Linked DNA regions of Homo sapiens. The protein of the gene in region 1 interacts with the protein of each later gene in a biochemical or structural test. Each region holds a gene or a part of one and is shown in the gene's direction. Other genes may lie near its edges.

The links.
Region 2: the proteins of GRAP (region 1) and KIT form a complex in vitro, tested with the Homo sapiens proteins (one study listed by BioGRID).

What each region holds. Positions count from the first base shown.
Region 1 is NC_000017.11:19,042,634-19,053,539, reverse strand, and holds the start of GRAP (GRB2-related adapter protein), read left to right. Parts: upstream 1-6,582; 5' UTR 6,583-6,613; coding exon 6,614-6,691; intron 6,692-10,906. UniProt on the Homo sapiens protein: Couples signals from receptor and cytoplasmic tyrosine kinases to the Ras signaling pathway. Plays a role in the inner ear and in hearing.
Region 2 is NC_000004.12:54,729,383-54,739,975, forward strand, and holds part of KIT (mast/stem cell growth factor receptor Kit isoform 1 precursor), read left to right. Parts: coding exon 1-103; intron 104-1,945; coding exon 1,946-2,037; intron 2,038-2,488; coding exon 2,489-2,616; intron 2,617-3,687; coding exon 3,688-3,810; intron 3,811-7,115; coding exon 7,116-7,227; intron 7,228-7,338; coding exon 7,339-7,438; intron 7,439-7,792; coding exon 7,793-7,898; intron 7,899-9,046; coding exon 9,047-9,175; 3' UTR 9,176-10,593. UniProt on the Homo sapiens protein: Tyrosine-protein kinase that acts as a cell-surface receptor for the cytokine KITLG/SCF and plays an essential role in the regulation of cell survival and proliferation, hematopoiesis, stem cell maintenance, gametogenesis, mast cell development, migration and function, and in melanogenesis.

The sequences.
Region 1 (10,906 bases):
AGGCGTGAACCACCGTGCCTGGCAATTTCTATCTTTTTATCGGTATTCTCTATTTGATGAAACGCCATCATCATACATTCCTTTATTTATTTAGTCACAGTTTCCTTTGGTTTTATGAACGTGTGTATAATGGCTACTTTAAAGTCTTTTTCTGATAAATCAACATGTGCCCTCTCACAGGCAGTTTCCTTTGCCTGCATTTCCCCCTATCTATGGGTCATGCTTTCCTGTTTATTAAATTTTTTGCAGGCTTCATATTTTTTTTTTTTTTTTTTGGAAACAGGACATTTAAATAATACATTGTAGCAATTCTGGGTATGAGTCTCCCCTGACCTGGGCTTGTTATTATTTTCTTGTTTATTTGTTTAGTGACTGGCTGGATTGTTTTAGTGAAGTCTATTTCTTCCGTACGATGTTCAGCTTCTATGGTCGTTCTCAGGGGGCCCAGCTTTGAGTATGCCTGCAGTTACTCTGGGATGACAGTGGTTTTGGAAGGCTCTCTTCCTCTTTCCCTGACCATATCCAGCTGTTAAGCTATGCAAATTTTCTTTTCTTTTTTCTTTCTTTCTTTCTTCTCTTTTTTTTTTTTTTTTTGAGATGGAGTCTCGCTCTGTCGCCCAGGCTGGAGTGCAGTGGCACAATCTCGGCTCACTGCAACCTCCGCCTCCCGGGTTCAAGCAATCCTCTGACTCAGCCTCCCAAGTAGTTGGGATTACAGGCACCTGCCACCACGCCCGGCTAATTATTGTATTTTTTGTTTTTTAGTAGAGACGGGGTTTGACCGTCTTGGCCAGGCTGGTCTTGAACTCCTGACCTAGTGATCCACCCACCTCAGCCTCCCAAAGTGTTGGGATTTTAGGCATGAGCCACTGCACCCAGCCCTTCTTTTTCTAATCCTTGCTTGGTTGAAATAAGCTCTGCAAGTTGCCAATGGATTGCTTTATAATTTCCTATAATGCCCTGCACTACACACTGATCCTATCAAGTTTGGCTCCTTGGAAGAAATAGTGTGTGAGGTCAATGTCTGCTATTTGTTCTGACCTCAGGAGGGCTCCCTCTACTGGTGCTATTCCCTGTTCTCTCCTGTAAACGAGCAGCCTAGAGTTCAGCTTGTGTCTTGAATCTTCTCCTAATTATCTCTCACCATAATCTCTACTATTCTCAAAAGCACCTTTTGGGCCGGGTGCGGTGGCTCACGCCTGTAATCCCAGCACTTTGGGAGGCTGAGGTGGGCGGATCACCTGAGGTCGGGAGTTCGAGACCAGCCTGGTCAACATGGTGCAAACCCCGTCTCTACTTAAAAAAAAAAAATTAGCTGGGTGTGGTGGTAGGCACCTGTAATCCCAGCTACTCGGGAGGCCGAGGCAGGAGAATCGCTTGAACCCAGGAGGCGGAGGTTGCAGTGAGCGGAGATCGCATCACTGCACTCTCAAACAAACCTAACCAAAATCAAAACAAAAGCAACTTTTGCCTTGAATTCCTTCGTTCTCTGTAGCAAATGAGGTCAGTTGCTTTGGGAAGAGATTAGGAAGTCTCTTTTTTATGGCCTGTTTCTTCATTAGACAAAAATCTCTCTGAGCCAGGGCCCTGGAGCTGGGGGTGGAGACTTTGGAAAGCTTCTCTCTGAGTGACACCCTGCGCTAGGGGCTGAGGACTTGGTGGGAGTGGGGACAATGGCCGAGGTCCTCAAAGTTTGCCTCTCCTGTTGTCGAGCTACTTCCACATGAGCCAGGGCCGGAGTGATCAGGACCCCAGCACTCGCAGCACACTGCACCCAAGGCAGAGCCTCTGTTCCTTGAGTGGGGCTGGGTGCAAGAAGGGGGCCCCCAACTCTTGGCTACACTCATCCAGGACTTAGTCTCAGCAACAGGTGGCTGGGGGTAGAATAGGAAATGGATGTCCTGTTCTTCGTGGGAGGCAAGCCCTCCCACTGGGAGCTGGGGGCAGAGGGAGCCCTGTTTCCCTGGTCTGGAGGCAGCAGGGGACCCCATGTTCTTGGCTGCAGCTGTCCAGAGTGGAGTCTCAGCCTCACTGAGCTGAGAGGAAGGGCAAGAGGGGCCATGATCTCAGTGCAAACACCATGGCCTCACCTTTTTAAACCAAATATTCATAGATGTTCATGAATCCATGTTTCTTCATTTGCATTTTCTTTTTTTTTTTCCAGACAAAGTCTCGCTCTGTCCTCAGAGGCAGGAGTACAATGGTGTGATCATAGCTCACTATCACCTTGAAATCCAGGACCGAAACGATCCTCCCACCTCAGCCTCCTGAGTAGCTGGGATTACAGGTGAGAGCCACCATGCCTGGCCTATTTTTGTTGTTGTTTATTTTTGTAGAGATGGGTTCTCACTATGTTGTCCAGGCTGGTCTTGAACTCCTGGGTTCAAGCATTCCTCCTGCTCCAGCTTCCCAAAGTGCTGGGATTACAGGTGTGAGCCACCATGCCTGGCCTGTTTCTTCATTTTCTTTTCTTTCTTTCTTTCTTTTTTTTTTTTTTTTCTGAGACAGAGTCTCCCTCTGTCACCCAGGCTGGAGTGCAGTGGCACGATCTCTGCTCACTGCAATCTCCACCTCCCAGGTTCAAGTGATTCTATTTCCAAGTAGCTGGGACTACAGGCGTGCGCCACCATGCCTGGCCAATTTTTGTATTTCAAGTAGACACAGGGAGGCGGAGGTTGCAGTGAGCTGAGATCATGCCACTGCACTCTAGTTCAGGCAACAAAAGCAAAACTCTGTCTCAAAAAAATTTTTTTTCAGGGAGTTCTCTCAGGTGTTTCAGCCAATCTCTGATGATAAAAAGTTCCCCAATCAGCCTGTTTGGAGTGTTCCAGGGTCCAGTAGTCTAGCCCAGTCTACTAATTACAGAACTCAAACTGCATTGAAATTGCAGTTTCCATCCAATCTCACGACCCTTAACATAATCGCACCGGCAAAGTCCCTCTTGTCATATAAGGGAACGTTCCAAGTTCTTGAGATCAGGACCTGGATGTCTTCGGGGCTGTTACTCAGCTGATCACAGGGGGTTAGGGTTTCAGCACTGAGACAGTGGCTGGGTCTGCCCTGGCCTGGTGTGGCCTGTGGCCAGTGATGAGTTTTCCTCCTGTGAGCAGCTTTTGAGGGACCTCCATAAACCAAAACCAAAATCCTAAGCCCCTTAACCATCCAAATGGACTCCTTCTCTCGGCAAGGGCATTCCAAAGTTAACCTGAAAATGAGTTCAGGATATGATGGGAAGGGGGAGCTGGACATGCCTTGTTATAACCTCCTCGCTTTTGGAATTACTGTTAGAACGGACTCTTTCAGTCTGATAAGAAACATTTACACTATATTCTCTCTGAAGCCAGCTACCTGGAGGCTTCATCTGCATAATAAAACCTTGGTTTCCAAAACTCCTTATTTTGTTGTTTTTTTGTTTTTTTTTTTTTTTGAGATAGGGTTTCTCTTTTGTTGCCCAGGCTGGAGTATAATGGGGTGATCTCGGCTCACTGCAACCTCCGCCTCCTGGGTTCAAGCAATTCTCCTGCCTCAGCTTCCCAAGTAGCTGGGATTACAGGCGTGCGCCACCACTCCCGGCTAATTTTGTATATACATTTTTTGAGATGGAGTTTCACTCTTGTCGCCCAGGCTGGAGTGCAGTGGCATGATCTTGGCTCACTGCAACTTCCGTCTCCTGGGTTCAAGTGATTCTCCTGCCTCAGCCTCCCAAATAGCTGGGATTATAGGCACTCGCCACCACGCCTAGCTAATTTTTTATTTTTAGTAGAGACGGGGTTTCACTATGTTGGCCAGGCTGGTCTCAAACTCCTAACCTCAGGTGATCCACCTGCCTCGGCCTCCCAAAGTGCTGGGATTGCAGATGTGAGCCACCGTGCCCAGCCTAATTTTGTATTTTTGGTAGAGACAGGGTTTCACCATGTTGGTCAGGCTGGTCTCGAACTCCTGGCCTCAAGTGATCTGCCTGCCTTGACCTCCCAAAGTGCTGGGATTACAGGCATGAGCCACCGCGCCTGGCCCAAGCCTCCAGTTTCCGATGGCCCCTCGTTCCAGGCCCCAGCGTCTGCCTCATTTGGGGTGCTGCATTCTTCAAGGGTCCTCTCAGTCAAGTCCCATTTGTGGGGTCCTCTCTGGTCTCCCGGAATCAGGGCAGATTTACCCTCCAACAAAGCTTTGCTGCTTACCTCACTGCACTCCTTGAGCTCACTGTACAGTAGGCAGCCCAGGCTCCCAGCTCTGGCCCGAGCCACCTTGGGCAGGAATCCTTCGGGTTGAGGCCATGCGGCGAAGGAGTTGTAGGCATGGTTTGGCCCTCAGGCCTGCCTGGGTTTGAACCCCAGCCCTGCCACCTACCAACTATTGGTCACTTACCTCTTTGTAAAGGACTTGGCAGAGAATAAATACTTCTAAAACACATAAAAATAAACCCGGCATCTGTCCCACCGCCCCAGGGGACACCCATTCAGCTTCATAAGGGGAAGTCCTCCTCCCCTCATATGGCTAGAAGCACCTCAGAACTGAGGCGGGGGCCGATCCCAACCCCTCCATTGCATCATTCTGAGGCTTTGAAACCTCAGCTGCAACAGAGCCGGAAAGAGGGGCCTTATAACATCCTGTCACCCTTGGGGTCGGGGGCAGCCAGAAGGCAGGGGTCTTTGAGTAGAGGGCAGCGTGGAGAAGCCCTGGAATGGAGCTGGGTGAGGCCAGGGCCAGCTCCATCCTGCCTGGTTGGCTCAGGGACTCCAGAGTGGGCGGCGGGCAGCTGTCATCTTCTCTTCTTCCCTCTCAACTATTTTTTTTTTTTTTTTTGAGATGGAGTCTTGATGTGTCACCCAGGCTAGAGTGCAATGGTGCGATCTCGGCTCACTGCAACTTCCATCTCCCAGGTTCAAGCGATTCTTCTATTATTGGCCAGAAGGTCAGGGTGTGTTCATAGAATGATGGGTCCATGTCAAAAGGATAAGGAGACAGCTTGAAGGAGACCCCACTGGCCTAATCAGGGGCATTTTAAGCATCAAAATAAATGTAATAGTAATGGATTATAATCCACTGGCTAAAATATGAAACCATGAGCCTATATTAATATAAATGAAGGAAGAAAAACTTCTTTACAGAAAAAAAACAATGTGACTTCACACTGATTCATCCAGTGTCCATGCAACACCACAGGGCTCTGCCTGGTTTTCCTTCCACGTCTGTGTCTCCCTTCTTTCCCAGGGAGAACCCTGGTTCCAAACAATACAGCTGTGCTTGTCCATTTGTGCGCTATCCTGCAACACTTGCAAAACAGTTTCAGAATTGCTACACCGATAACACTGCTCATAACAAACCCACTAAGGAAAGGTAGAGATTTATTTACAATTCTCTTTTTTTTTTTTTTTTTTTTGAGAAGGAGACTCGCTCTGTCACCCAGGCTGGAGTGCAATGGCGCAATCTCAGGCAGGAGGATCGCTTGAGTCCAGGAATTCAAGACCAGCCTTGGTAACATGGTGAAAACCCATCTCTACTAAAAATACAAATAATTAGCCAGACATGGTGGTGGGCACCTGTAGTCCGAGCTACTCTGGAGGCTGAGGTGGGAGGATTGCTTGGAGCCTGGATGGATCCTTGGCTCACTGCAGCCTCTGCCTCCCGGGTTCAAGCGATTCTTGTGCCTCAGCCTTCCCAGTAGCTGGGATTACAGGCACATGCCACCATGCCAGGCTAATTTTTTGTATTTTTATTAGAGATGAGGCTTCACCATGTTGGCCAGGCTGATCTCGAACTCCTGACCTCCAGTGATCCGCCCATCTTGGCCTCTCAAAGTGCTGGGATTATAGGCATGAGCCATCGCGCCCGACCTACAAGTCTTGTTGACCTTAGGATTTAAGTCCCACCTAAGGTGCCCAGTGTCTAAACCAGAAGAGGTACCTTCTGAGCTGGTCTTTGATGGATGAATAGGAGTCTCCTGGGAGCAGAAAGAGGAGAACACCAGGCAGAGGAACCACGTGTGCAAAAGTCTGGGGTTGAAATGAGAGTTTGGTGTGGCCCCTTGCTGTGGCTGAAGCCCTGGGTTTGTTTAGAGTGAAGGGGATGACAAAGGATGAGAATGGGGGCTGTTTGTAGGGGCAGGTGGAGGTGGTGGATTGCAAGGGCCTTGAATGCCAGGTGAGGAGCTTGGGATTGAAGGAGCAGGAGGCAGGGCATCACAAGAGGCATCAGGGTTTAGGAAAAGATGGAGAGTCATTGGCAGATTGGTGAAGGGAGGCCAGCATCTGGTGCCATGAGACTCAGTGCCTGAGCCAGCAGGACAGCTTTGGCACTTCTCCTCCAGGCACCTCACTTTTACGGATGATAAAACATGGGCACAAGGGGGCCCCACTCCCAGAGCTTCAGGGAGACTCCCCAAGGGCCATTCCTGGCACCTGGGGTCTGAGGTAGGGACAGAGCTGGCTCACAAGCCCTCCCTGCTCTGTGACATGTCTGTTTCCTGTTTCTCCCCCATCAGGAGCAGTTTCAGTCTCAACTTCAAAAGAACAAACGCGCACTCAAAACAAAGGAAGACCGTCCTCGACTGCAGAGGAAGCAGGAAGCTGTCGGCCCAGCTCTGAGCCCAGCTGCTGGAGCCCCGAGCAGCGGCATGGAGTCCGTGGCCCTGTACAGCTTTCAGGCTACAGAGAGCGACGAGCTGGCCTTCAACAAGGGAGACACACTCAAGGTAGGGGGGCTGGAGCCTGCTGAGTTGGCCCCACACGGGGTGGGGGTGGATTTAGGAACCAGGGACCTGGGACTGTCCCAAGCAGACTGTGGCCCCTGGAAGACAGGCCCAGCCTCTCCAGTTATTGGCTGTGTGACTCTGGACAAGCCACCTTTTCCCTCGGAGCCTCAGATTCTCCATCTAGGAAATGGGGAGATAACTAATGACCCTCCTTTGGGGCTGTTGTGAGGATTCGATGAGATATTACCACAGTGTCTGGCAGGAGTTAGTTCAACCCCCAGTTTTCCAGGAAAAAGTTTGAAAAGAAAATTGTTGAGAGAGGGAGAGAATGAGAGCTAGAGAGAGAGACAGAGTATGGGAATGGAGAACAGAGCGAGAAAGAGGGAGAGAGAGAAGGTCTTAGGAAAGAAATAAGTACACATGCTAACCTAGTAGGGCTAAAATAGCTAAGATGAAAGTGTCAAGGATGAGCTTCCCAGTAGTGTGGAGAAAAGGGAAAATAGAGTCATACCACCGTTCATTTCTCCTTGTCTGGGCCGCTTTTGACAGATGTTGCAGCCTTCCAAGACGGTCTAGACAGTTGGGCCTGTGGAATGTGTCTCTGGAAATGTCCTTGCTTAAAAGTTTGCATATGAAAGCCATGCCCAGGATTCTGGGAGTGGCCATGCCAAGACGTGTGCACTGGAACTGCCAGTAAACCACACTAGGGAAGTGACTGCCCTTCCCTGGGCCTCAGTTTCCCCACTGGAGCAATGGGTGTTAGACTGGATGCTCCTCTGCGCTGAGCCCTGGGCGCTGCCCTTGGCCACAAGCTTCAAGCACAAGACGGGAGAGCTCCCTGTGCCATCACCCTGCTATAGCCAGGCCCCGAACTCAGCAGCACACCTCATGTACCATTTAAGCAATGGGGACTGGCACCCCCATTTCACAGGTGACTAAACTGAGGCACAGGGAGGCAACATGACCTGCTCGGTATGGAGTCAGTTTTGAACCCGTGTCCCTTTGGCTGTGGAACTTGCGCTTGGTCTGAACAGGCTGGGCTGGGGGTTGGGGTCCAGAGGAGGAGGAGCAATTCCTTCTTCTCTATGCTGGGGTGCTGGTGCTGGCACCTGGGGTCACTGCAGTGCTGGCTGTCGGCCTCGTGGACATGTGGCCAGATGGGGACAGGGCCAGGCTGAGCACTGGGGCTGTGAGCCCAAGGCATGACCCTCTGCGGGGATCCAAGTCTTGGTTTCTCATCTGAGAGCACTTCGAGGTCTCTAGACCCAAGTGTGGTGTTGGGAGGGAGTGGGGCAGTGATGAAATAGGAATGGGGTGCGCGGGAGGCGTTGAGCCAGGCTTGGAGGGATCAAGTGGCTGGGGTGGAAGCTGAGCTCCGCGACCATCCTGTCCTCTCGTCTAGCAAGTATTTTCCAGTGCTCCCTGTGGGCCAGCCCCTGCCATGGCACTGCCTGCCTACAGATTGAGTCCAGCCTGGGAGAGTGGGCGATGAAGCCCGTTCTTGAAATCTGAACTTTGGTCTTGGATGAAAACTCTGGCTCATGGACTCACCCTGGACAAATGGCCCCAAACATCACCTCCCTGGGACAAAGCCTCCCTCCCTGATAGGCCAGGCGTTTCTGGGTGCACGCACCCCCATGCTGTTGCCAGCTGGAGGGGCATGTGGTTAGTGGCTTCACTCCCATCTCTGCACGAGCAGCCTGGATGATGAGACCCAGACTCAGGAAGCCCATGTCACCTTGACATCTCCATGGGAAAGGGCGACGGTCCAGACCCAACACAGCCAGCCCTGGGCTCCCTGAACCTACTTTCTGCTGCCTGTCATTGTCTTGTCGGCAACTCTGGCAAAACCTACCCGAAGCCCCTCCTCCAGCCCAGGCCTCCATTGTCACTTACCTGGGCTTGCGTGGTGGCTCCCAAGGCCTCCCCGCAACAATCCCTGCTCCCCAGCCCAGTCTCCATGCAGTGGCCATGACTCAGAGCCTGGTCCTCCCCCGTACATCTTATGACATCTGCTCCTCCCTCCCTCAGCTCCAGACACCCTGGCCTCCTTTCTGTTTCAGGGACAGAGCTTGGCCCCACCTCAGAGCCTTGGCACTGGCTGTTCCGTCCGTCTTGGACACTGTTCCCCACATTTTCTTACCGCTGGTTCCTTCTTGTAATTCGGGTCTCAGCTTCCATGTCACTTCTTCAGAGAGGCCTTTCTGGACCACCCCACCTGTCCCGTGTTGACAATCTCCCTGCTCCCACCCAACCAGACATTCTCCATCTGTCACCTGATGTCCATTTTTCACAGCGCTTACTGCTCCATTAAACTACCTTGCTTATTTGTTTCTTCCCTTGTTTATGGTCTGTCTCTGCCTACTAGAATGTGAGCTTCTTGTTCCCTGCTCTGTCGTGGGGTGCCTGGCACACAGTAGGTGCTCAGTAAACAACTATCAAGCAGCAACTGCATCGGGCTGGGATGGTAAAGTGGGGCGGCAGCCTGGGTGGAGGGCACCATGTGGGCAAAGGCTCAGGGGCAGGCCAAGTTCTGCCTCTCACCTTGAGCAGTGATACTCCTCCAGGGAGGAGTTGGCCTCTCTCCCTTGTGAGAATTCCCGGGTCTCAGAGGGTCTGGGGCTTTCAAACAATGTTCACAGTAAGAAATCAGTTAACGTGAGGTCAAGAGATCGAGACCAGCCTGGCCAACATGGTGAAACCCCATCTCTACTAAAAATACAAAAATTTAGCTGGGCGTGGTGGCACACACCTGTAGTCCCAGCTACTCGGGAGGCTGAGGCAGGAGAATCGCTTGAACCCAGGAGGCAGAGGTTGCAGTGAGCTGAGATTGCGCCACTGCACTCCAGCCTGGTGACAGAGTGAGACTCCATCTCAAAAAGAAAAAAAAAAAGAAAAAAGAAAAAGAAATTAGCTAATGTAACCAATGGGACATTCCTGAGTCCTCTGAGTGCAGATGACAAGGAGACAAAACGAAGCAGGGACTGCATGAGACGTATTCCACCCAGTGTCCGCACTGCTGCATGCAGGGCAGGCCATAAATGCACCCATTGGACAGACGAGGGAGGACACTGAGGCCAAGGCCACAGAGAGAGTCAGAAGCAGACAGAATGTTCTGGAGCCCCAGGCTTCAGGGCATCCTCCTGGAATCCATGGCTGTGGTATGTGGCCTACAGGCCCTCATTTTCTCCTTAGGTTGGGGGAGTTGTTTTGTTTTTTTGAGACGGAGTCTCACTCTGTTGCCCAGGCTGGAGTGCAATGGCGCGATCTCGGCTCACTGCAGCCTCCAGCTCCCGGGTTCAAGTGATTCTCCTGCCTCAGCCTCCTGAGAAAGTTGGGGATTATGAGAGTGTGCCACCATACTTGGCTAATTTTTTTGTATTTTTAGTAGAGACGGGGTTTCGCCATGTTGGCCAGGCTAGTCTTGAACTCCTGACCTCAGGTGGTCCACCCTCTTCAGCCTCCCAAAGTGCTGGGATTACAGGCGTGAACCACTGCGCCCGGCCTGTTTTGTTTTGTGTTGAGCGAAAGTTTTCCTGAGTCAGCCACCTGCTTCCGTTCACCCCTGGGTCTGCTGACCTGGCCCAGGCTGCAGGGGCAGGAAGGAAGAGGCTCAGCCAGCCTGGCCTGGTGGACAAAGCGGGGGTGGAGATGGGGGTGCAGAGGCCACCTGTGAGGGTGGGGCCTCAGGCCTGGGCCCTAGGAGGCCAATCCCAGCTACTCTTGGCAAAATATCACTGCTGGAGTTGATGCCCCTGTATTGGCCCGCCCTGGGCCTTTGGTACCCCGTGCCCAATTTTTTCTCTCAAGTACCCCTGAAGGATTGAGCTGACATTGGAACCTGCTCCAGGACTGACAGGAGAGATGTCCCCTCACAGGAGAGATGTCCCCTCAAGCTGGAGTCCAGTGACAAAGAGGACTGGAGGCAAAAATTGGTGGGCCAGGACCCCCTTGACCAGTGAGCCAAAAACTCCAGGCCTCAGAGTCCTGACTGACCAAACAGGCTCTGCCTCTCCCCTGCTGCGTGGCCTTGGCCAAGTCACTTCCCCTGTGGGCCTCAGTTTTGTTATTTGTAAAATAGCATTTGGTGATGTTGACCTTGGGGGCTATATGAGAATCAGGGGGACAGACGGAAGGCGTGCCCAGGGAATGGAGGCAGGACCCCCGGCCTCATGCTGTGCCCCTCCCAGGCCCGGCCCCGCCCCCCGCCTTGGT
Region 2 (10,593 bases), on another chromosome or scaffold:
ATTTTTTGAGAAGAAAACGTGATTCATTTATTTGTTCAAAGCAGGAAGATCATGCAGAAGCTGCACTTTATAAGAATCTTCTGCATTCAAAGGAGTCTTCCTGGTAAGACTGATTTACATAAATAGTTAGCTGTTGACAGGCAGTTCATGGGGTCATAAGGGTTTGCAATCAAGGCTGATTCTTTAAAAAATGAACTGAGGTACTCTGAGGTATGAAATCAAAATTATTAAATCATTTAAATGTGATTAACAGTTTAGAAAGTTAAATTGTGTTTTTAAAGATTCAAACCTAGATTTTTGCTGATTTTTTAAAAATGTATTTTCAGTTTTCTTCTACACTTTAGTTCCATGCAACTGAATGCATTCTATATCTGTTTCTCTTACGGTTCTGTCCTGCATGTATTTCCATTTATACTATTGAGCTTGGTACTACATGCATGTTTCCAGTGAGATACTGTTTATAGGGAAAATGCTAAAGCCTCTCAAGTTGCCACAGTAAAGTCCCTTTAAAACCTTTAGCAGAATGACAAAGAGCTCTGAACATATCTCCACATGTAGGCTTCTTGCCATCGACCTCTGGATTATTCCTGTATACCTTGCCTCTTGCCCTTTTTATTTCATCATGCTATTAAAAGACATAACTACTCCAGCACATTTTTTAAAAATTCTGGACATTATTCTCATCTCTTTCATCATTGATGCCATTCTGAATTTGAATCATGTATAAAGAGCTTTGAGTTTGACTTACAACCAGAAAAGAATTCTTCTCATATCTTGCCTATTCTTTCTTTGGAAATGCTCTTAAGGGCCACCATTTGAGAAGACTTCCTAGATGTACCCAGTCCAACAGAAGTCATGGTTATTTTGCCCAGTCCCCTATACTGTATATTGCTGCAGTTGTGTGGTAGATTTCTCCTATCCTTTTCATGCACTTTATATCCACTGCATCTTGCAATGGCAAGACATTGCCTCCTGAACTCTTAACACCAGGTCCTCAAGGAGACCTCAGTAAATATTATTGATGGGCAATTACCCCTTAAAGCCATTTTCTGTACCTCTGGCTAAAGTTTAAAACCCCAGGTGAAACTTTTTATTTTTTTTTAATCCTATAAACTTGAGTAGTTTAAAGTGGTAGTAGAAACTGTACAAAACCACTTTTTGTTAGTTTCTCCTGGGCATGTGCTCATTATATGAAGAAATGAGCCATTTTGCTTCTTTCCGAAACCTTGGCCCTATATATATCCTTTAACTTTCTGATATAATGGCCTAAATTGTTCAATCCTGTGTGATGTTCTTTGTGCTTTGGGATCCCATATGGGATTGGAACCACCAGCACACTCTGAAGGAGATTGTTGTCATGGTGTTTCTATGCTAATCAGAAGCAGGAAGTACTAGAAATCTTGAAGAGTCTCCAGCCAAATGTTGCAGATTGAAGAGGTCCAGATGGTTCAGAAAATCATCCAAATTATTGGTGTTTATCTGAACCAACTTGATTTTTTTTTAAACCTTCCTCCATCAGTCACTATATGTTAACGATCTCTGCCTCCTGCATAACACGTCTTGGAAGCTCTTCTTTGTCTTTCTTTCATCTTGTCTCCTGGGGCTCATTTAGAGAGTTTGAGGTAATACGGGATACCATATTTGGCTCTCTGTCTCCCATTAAATTCATTGTGTCAAGAGACGGGAAATTTCTAACCTGAGTCCTCTATATGATTATACACAAAAAGGACACCTAGTTTCTGGGCATGGACCCCAATATCGATTATTAAAAACTCATTTCTTACAGAACAGGATTTTCAAACTCTTTATTCAAACTTTACATGACTTTCCTCAAATTGGTCCAGTCTATTATGTAGCAAAGGGGATGAGGAGGTAGAGCATGACCCATGAGTGCCCTTCTACATGTCCCACTTGATTCAGTCATGACTTGTTTCATCTCTCCCAGCAGCGATAGTACTAATGAGTACATGGACATGAAACCTGGAGTTTCTTATGTTGTCCCAACCAAGGCCGACAAAAGGAGATCTGTGAGAATAGGTGAGTACCTACCTATCAAGCAACCAAGAGTAACTTTACAGAGAGTATGTATATCATGCTAATGTGGAATATAACATCATTCCCAGTAGCAATGATGCAGACCAGTTCTGCTTTATGGTAGCAGTGCCAATGGTCAATGGCAGTTAGGGTTGCAAGTGGGTGTTTGGGGTCAGAGCATATGTTTTTGTGCCTGAGTATCTTTCTATAGATATGGGATCTTTGCTTTAATTCGCCATCCCTCTCCTCTATGGATTTTGTAACCCAGCCTAGGATTGTTAAATATTAACTTTGTGATTCAGCATCTACCTTTCCTGGACACCAGGGAAGTGATCTGCCTGCAAGTTCACATTAGTTCATTCATTACCAGCCTTTGGTATGTCATTGCCACTGTCTTTTCCTTTCCTGACCTTTATGGTTGTAATTGCTAAGAAAAATCCTCTCTTCCTCACAGGCTCATACATAGAAAGAGATGTGACTCCCGCCATCATGGAGGATGACGAGTTGGCCCTAGACTTAGAAGACTTGCTGAGCTTTTCTTACCAGGTGGCAAAGGGCATGGCTTTCCTCGCCTCCAAGAATGTAAGTGGGAGTGATTCTCTAAAGAGTTTTGTGTTTTGTTTTTTTGATTTTTTTTTTTTTTTTTTTTTTTTTGAGAACAGAGCATTTTAGAGCCATAGTTAAAATGCAGAATGTCATTTTGAAGTGTGGTAACCAAAAGCAGAGGAAATTTAGTTTCTTCATGTTCCAACTGCTGTCTCTTTGGAATTCCTGTTCTAATTTATAAGCTGTAAAGTACAAGCCTGTCTAAATGAGTTTTTCTATGAATATTCTTTTATATGCAGTGAAATTCTTTTAAAACTTTTGGCTTTTAGGATATAGGATATGTTCCTAGAGAACAGAATCATTTTATCAGTAAAAGCAGAGGGCACCTCATAGTTACAAGGCTTGGGGTGAAGCATAGACTTGAGTTTTATTGAAGTTAGATCCAAATATTATATGTGTGGCTTATGAAGTGTCAGGAAATAAGGGGTCAGAGGGAGTAATAAACACTTGGGAGAAGGTTAGGAATGGAAAGAATGATGGAACCAAAACAAGGAGCATGGTCTGTGGAAGGGTGAAAGGAGTTCCTTAGGAAGTAAGATTAACCGAACAGAATGAGTTACCAGTCCTACCCTTAAATGTCATGGGTGACATTTCCCAACAATTACCAAACTAAGAAAGGATATAAGATGGCTGAAATAAAGACCTTCTTCCGTGTGTCCTTGGGAGATGTCAGATTGAATTTGCAAAGGCATATTAGGAACTCTGTGAAAGGACATTCAAAGAGATGCATGCAAAATGAATTTTCAGTTTAAACAATATGATATGACTATTTCTTATGTATTTCCCTATGAATGAAAGCAGTCCTGAGAAGAAAACAGCATTTATTAGAATTGCTTTTAAAAGAGATTATAATAATTAGACTCTTGATTATGTGAACATCATTCAAGGCGTACTTTTGATTTTTATTTTTGGTGTACTGAATACTTTAAAACAAAAGTATTGGATTTTTTATAATATAAGCAACACTATAGTATTAAAAAGTTAGTTTTCACTCTTTACAAGTTAAAATGAATTTAAATGGTTTTCTTTTCTCCTCCAACCTAATAGTGTATTCACAGAGACTTGGCAGCCAGAAATATCCTCCTTACTCATGGTCGGATCACAAAGATTTGTGATTTTGGTCTAGCCAGAGACATCAAGAATGATTCTAATTATGTGGTTAAAGGAAACGTGAGTACCCATTCTCTGCTTGACAGTCCTGCAAAGGATTTTTAGTTTCAACTTTCGATAAAAATTGTTTCCTGTGATTTTCATAATGTAAATCCTGTCTAGGGATATCACACATTTTAGCAGTCAAATTAAGTATACTTCAGCAAAATTTGCATGGTATGCTGAACATTACTACAACTAACATTCAATAATAGAAGTCCTAATTCTAATTGTGTAATTTTGGGGCATGTGAAGGAAACAGAAATAGCCTTAATTTTCATTATAGCCTGAGAATAGCAATGAACTTGATTTTGCTCAAGTGTAACAAATGTAGGTCATTGAAGGTCACAGCAGGAGAAATTTTGGGGGGATTGGCATGCCGTGTGAAAAATATTAAAATCTAAGATCATATTCAGAGTTAGCCATATAGAATGTTGGATCCTAGAATACACGGAGAGCTATTAAATAGGTTCATAAGTAATAATGGGTTTGTAGAACATAGCAAATGTTTTTCAAAGTGCTGTATTTCCTTGCCAATTTTTATTGAATCCTCAGAACAAACCCTTGTCCTATAATTGCAGCACCTTCCTATTTTAAAAGTTGGAGAAACTAAGGCATGGCATATTTTAGTGCTTTTTATCTGAGGTGACACAGGACAATAGAGGCTGAAACTAGAGCCTGTGATTTCCAGAGTGGCATCCCATCGCCATGGAAAACCATATTGCCCTTTATAATATTCTCTGCCTGTCTTCCTGGGCCCATTTCTGCAGTCCAGATTTATTCCTGGAGGTGGATTTTTGTGCCCCTTATGATAATGTAATGTTTTCCCCCCATCACTGTGGCGTCTCTATTGGTAGCCTGTACTCGATTTGGTTTTGTAAGAGTGTTTCTGTGTTTATCTCCTGGCCAAAGCATGAATTTCTGAAAAGGCTGCCCTGAAGCTAGATATTATCATCAGGAGTGATAATAAAAACAACTTCTCTTCATCCTGGTGCAATTTTGGAAGGAAGAATGATAAGTCGTTAATTATCCAGTCCTCTGAATATTGACCAAAGGGAGGAGGAAGAAGGTGGCCGCCTCCAGGCCCAGTCTTGATGAATTCTGCAATCTGTCTCCATTATTTCATGCCTGTGTAATTTTGTCAAGAGTTGTCCAATACCTCTGAATCTTTGTTTTTCTCCCCTTGGGAATAATAGTGATTCCTGACTCAGAAAGTTATGAGTTAATATATGTAAAGTGCTTATGACAGTGCCAGACATATTGTTACTATTCTTTATAGATGTCTTATTTACGATCTAAATAATCGTGACGGTGGTTACATACTGTCTTGTTATTGGTTAGTGACCTTAGTTTGAAATGACAAAGAGGGGTTGGCTCTATCAGGCTTCCAGATTGTAGACTCCAGTTCAAGTCAGTTGAACTAACCAATCACAGATCTCGCTTTCACCAGGCTAGTGGGTAAGGAGAATTTCTGGAACAAGATAAGAAGAAGGAAACTCATATATGTTACCGCCCCACATTTTTGTCATCATCATTTGAGATCTCCTTGTTGTGTCAGGTTCTCTGAAGTTCTTTCCTTTCACATGAGTTCTTCATTGTTTTTCATGTCATGGCCCCTTTTAGAGCCTGGTAAAGCCTATGGGACCCTTATCAGAACACTGTTTTCAACGCCTATGATGAAATACATAGGAATACCAAGGAAAACAGTTAAATCGAAATAGCTATGAAGATACTAAGTAAATTTGTGATATGTCAGTACATGTGTTTACTATAGAGTGTAACAGGCTCTGTTAGGTTGGTGTAAAAGTAATTGTGGGTTTTGCTATTTTTTCTAAAAACCACTGTAATTTTAGAGTGGTGATTAATGTAAATATGATTTTGAGATACCTATAAAGACTTAATAGGATATGAAGATATTTATGATTACTGTTCATGACAAAGTCACAGGTACAGCTGATACTACTGCGTTTTATCACCTTTGTTAGTAATTTAAAGAAATGCTAAATTTCATCTAGAAATTAGCGAAAATAAGGATGTCATTTTTCCTTTCCAAGTTCACAGGCCCCTGAATTTGACACCCATAGATCTCAGGTTAGGAGCCCTTATAGGAACTTTAGCACAACATCTAGGAAGGGAAGGGATATTGGAAGTTTTTTGTTTTGTTTTTGTAAGCTGACTAAAATAACTTTAACACCAAAAAAAAAAAAGAAAAAAAAAAAAAGCTTTCCCAGTTTTCAATCCTAAATGGATTAAGAGAAGGATTGATTTAGCTTTTTATGGCAGATTAAGATTGGGAATCCAGAATGCATCTAAAAGGACTAGTTACAGAAAGTTTAGCTCAACTTTAATGGAGAGAGTTCTCCAAAGAGTCAGGATCACAAGCCACTACTGTTTATCAAGTACTTGCCTTTCTTCTAGGCAATTTTTCAGATAGCACTGAGTCAGGCGGTGCTAAGCATTTTTACCCATTTTATCTTATTTAACCCACAAGACAATTCATAAAATTAAAAGTATTCATTTTGTTTTACAGAAGAAGATACTGAGGCTTAATTACAAATATTTTAGTGACTTTCCCAGTGTATTAGAGAAAGTTTTGGGTTTTGACAGAAAACCCAAAATAAAAGAAGTCTAGGAGTAGACTTTATACCAGGATTGGTATAAAGGTTCCATGGAGTACCCGGGCAAGTCTTTCCTTTCCATGCTTAGCCATTCCTGAGTGTAACCCCCATGTCCATGGTCCAAGATGACCACCAGGTGGATAGCCAGCCATCATATCCAGAAGGCAGGGGGCCCTTGCACTAGAGAAGAGAGGGCAGAGGGCACGTGCCAGCTATATTGTAAGGAGGTTTTCCTGAAGCTGCTATACAGCACTTACAACTTAGTGGCCAAAACCGAGTCACCTAACTACAGCTAGCTAGCTGCAAAGGAGGCTGGGAAATGTAGTCCTAATTGTGAGAGGCCGTGTTTCTGTTTTTAAGGAAGGAGAGGGACATATTCAGTGGAAACTAACAAATCTCTGCATTACCTAAGGCCCATGGTGGAGCCAGGGCTAAAATGTCTGGCTGTCTCTGACGTTTGTGCTCTTAATCTCCATGCCGTACTGACATAGTGCTCACATCTTAAAATGGGGATAATGCACTTGTGAGCCATGTATTTCAGAGGTGATTGGGATCATCTGAGTTCATATAGGTAAAAGGTTTTTGTGAGATGGTACTCAAGTTATCACTCCACATTTCAGCAACAGCAGCATCTATAAGAATATCTTCTGTTCAATTTTGTTGAGCTTCTGAATTAACATTATTGACTCTGTTGTGCTTCTATTACAGGCTCGACTACCTGTGAAGTGGATGGCACCTGAAAGCATTTTCAACTGTGTATACACGTTTGAAAGTGACGTCTGGTCCTATGGGATTTTTCTTTGGGAGCTGTTCTCTTTAGGTAAAATGATCCTTGCCAAAGACAACTTCATTAGACTCAGAGCATCTTCTTGAAGTTTCATTGGTGTCCTGCTTCCTTGTGATTAACACTGCTTTGCAAACTGTGTCTCAGGAAGCAGCCCCTATCCTGGAATGCCGGTCGATTCTAAGTTCTACAAGATGATCAAGGAAGGCTTCCGGATGCTCAGCCCTGAACACGCACCTGCTGAAATGTAAGAGCCAAAAAATTTTTCCTTTAGGTCACGTTTTCCCTTTTATTTTTCTTTTTAGAGACAGAAACCCAGATGTTGAGGGTTTTCATAACACAGTTTGAAATGTCACTTGGATTCTTTATGACACACTGGTCAAATGTCATTTCTGTAGTTTATTTTCATAATCTCTTGTCACCAAAAATACAGAAAGTTTCAGTAATATTTCATACATGCAGTGTTTTATGTTATCTATATGTCAGTCCATATGTCCAGTTGCATAGCCCTGGAATTATTACTGAAGTTGCTGGATGCCCATACATTTGAAAACAAGCTGAGGGCATTGAGGAGGGATAGTAAATGGCCCTTGTCTTGCAGGTATGACATAATGAAGACTTGCTGGGATGCAGATCCCCTAAAAAGACCAACATTCAAGCAAATTGTTCAGCTAATTGAGAAGCAGATTTCAGAGAGCACCAATCATGTGAGTATACCCTGGCCAGGCATAGAATCCCCCTTCTCCCAGTTCCAGGTGTGTCCTCCTCCTCAGGCTTTCAGGGTGAGGACTAACCTCCCAACCCCTTCTCTCCTAATCTTAGGTTGCAAATTGGGCTTCAGGTAGGGGAAGTAAAGCAATGGAAACTAGTTCTTTCTGCCCAGCCCTCCTGTTCTGAGCCAAAGAAGGATGTGAGATTGAGGGGGAAGGGTGGAGAGTTTTGTACTCACTGGAAGTAGAAGTTTCCATAAGGATTTGCCATGTTTCCTCCCTCATCTCAAATGCTGGTCACGGGGTCAGTATTTTCTCCCTCTCACATGTCAGGGCCATGCATCCTTTGGAGGGTTGGGGTGATGTGAACTAGAATAAAAGCATAGAAAAGACAGCTTGTTACTGCAGTGAAATAAGCCTTCTGATCAAACAAGCATAGCCAGAAAATGGCAGATAGCTGTCATGCCCACAAGCCATATAGAATGAAGAGCTGTTTGAAGTTGGGAGATCCCTCCCAGTGATTTGGGAAGTGTGGGGGAATGAAAACTCAAATCCATTATTTCCTCTCTTTTTAAGCAAGAATTAGTGATACTTTGACTCAGATTTTTTTAAGCTGCTTTCTTTCCTGGGCTGTGTGCTTGGAGCTATCTTTTCTTTCCTAATAGCACACCACTGATAATTTTTGGGTTAAAGCTTGTTCTTCTGGGTGTCAAAACATGTTTCAAATTGAACAGCATTTTCCACCCAGTTGCTTTGATTCTTGACAAGAGACCCCTGGAAGGGCCGTGGGTTTCCCAGCAAATTACATTGGTTATTGGGTTGTAGTTGCTGGAGAGATTTACAAGCCTTTTAAATAGGTAAGATAGTGCTTGGTGCCTGGTGTGCCCTTTTAGAAGAGCTAAGCTTGTGCATGTTTTGTCCCCACTTCTTGTATAAAGTTATTTCCTTGGAAAAATGAAGGGGGAAAACAAAGCTTATATTTGTTTTGTCAGTATGACTTGGGTTTTGGCCACAAAGTTCTTGGAAACCACTTCTCTCTTAAGAGTTTCCATCAGTTAGTTGTGATCTTGACACTGTAAGTATGCCTTTTGTTGCTATGTTCGTTGTAGGGACTGCTGTATTGACTATGGGCTTGTTTTCTCCAGATTTACTCCAACTTAGCAAACTGCAGCCCCAACCGACAGAAGCCCGTGGTAGACCATTCTGTGCGGATCAATTCTGTCGGCAGCACCGCTTCCTCCTCCCAGCCTCTGCTTGTGCACGACGATGTCTGAGCAGAATCAGTGTTTGGGTCACCCCTCCAGGAATGATCTCTTCTTTTGGCTTCCATGATGGTTATTTTCTTTTCTTTCAACTTGCATCCAACTCCAGGATAGTGGGCACCCCACTGCAATCCTGTCTTTCTGAGCACACTTTAGTGGCCGATGATTTTTGTCATCAGCCACCATCCTATTGCAAAGGTTCCAACTGTATATATTCCCAATAGCAACGTAGCTTCTACCATGAACAGAAAACATTCTGATTTGGAAAAAGAGAGGGAGGTATGGACTGGGGGCCAGAGTCCTTTCCAAGGCTTCTCCAATTCTGCCCAAAAATATGGTTGATAGTTTACCTGAATAAATGGTAGTAATCACAGTTGGCCTTCAGAACCATCCATAGTAGTATGATGATACAAGATTAGAAGCTGAAAACCTAAGTCCTTTATGTGGAAAACAGAACATCATTAGAACAAAGGACAGAGTATGAACACCTGGGCTTAAGAAATCTAGTATTTCATGCTGGGAATGAGACATAGGCCATGAAAAAAATGATCCCCAAGTGTGAACAAAAGATGCTCTTCTGTGGACCACTGCATGAGCTTTTATACTACCGACCTGGTTTTTAAATAGAGTTTGCTATTAGAGCATTGAATTGGAGAGAAGGCCTCCCTAGCCAGCACTTGTATATACGCATCTATAAATTGTCCGTGTTCATACATTTGAGGGGAAAACACCATAAGGTTTCGTTTCTGTATACAACCCTGGCATTATGTCCACTGTGTATAGAAGTAGATTAAGAGCCATATAAGTTTGAAGGAAACAGTTAATACCATTTTTTAAGGAAACAATATAACCACAAAGCACAGTTTGAACAAAATCTCCTCTTTTAGCTGATGAACTTATTCTGTAGATTCTGTGGAACAAGCCTATCAGCTTCAGAATGGCATTGTACTCAATGGATTTGATGCTGTTTGACAAAGTTACTGATTCACTGCATGGCTCCCACAGGAGTGGGAAAACACTGCCATCTTAGTTTGGATTCTTATGTAGCAGGAAATAAAGTATAGGTTTAGCCTCCTTCGCAGGCATGTCCTGGACACCGGGCCAGTATCTATATATGTGTATGTACGTTTGTATGTGTGTAGACAAATATTTGGAGGGGTATTTTTGCCCTGAGTCCAAGAGGGTCCTTTAGTACCTGAAAAGTAACTTGGCTTTCATTATTAGTACTGCTCTTGTTTCTTTTCACATAGCTGTCTAGAGTAGCTTACCAGAAGCTTCCATAGTGGTGCAGAGGAAGTGGAAGGCATCAGTCCCTATGTATTTGCAGTTCACCTGCACTTAAGGCACTCTGTTATTTAGACTCATCTTACTGTACCTGTTCCTTAGACCTTCCATAATGCTACTGTCTCACTGAAACATTTAAATTTTAC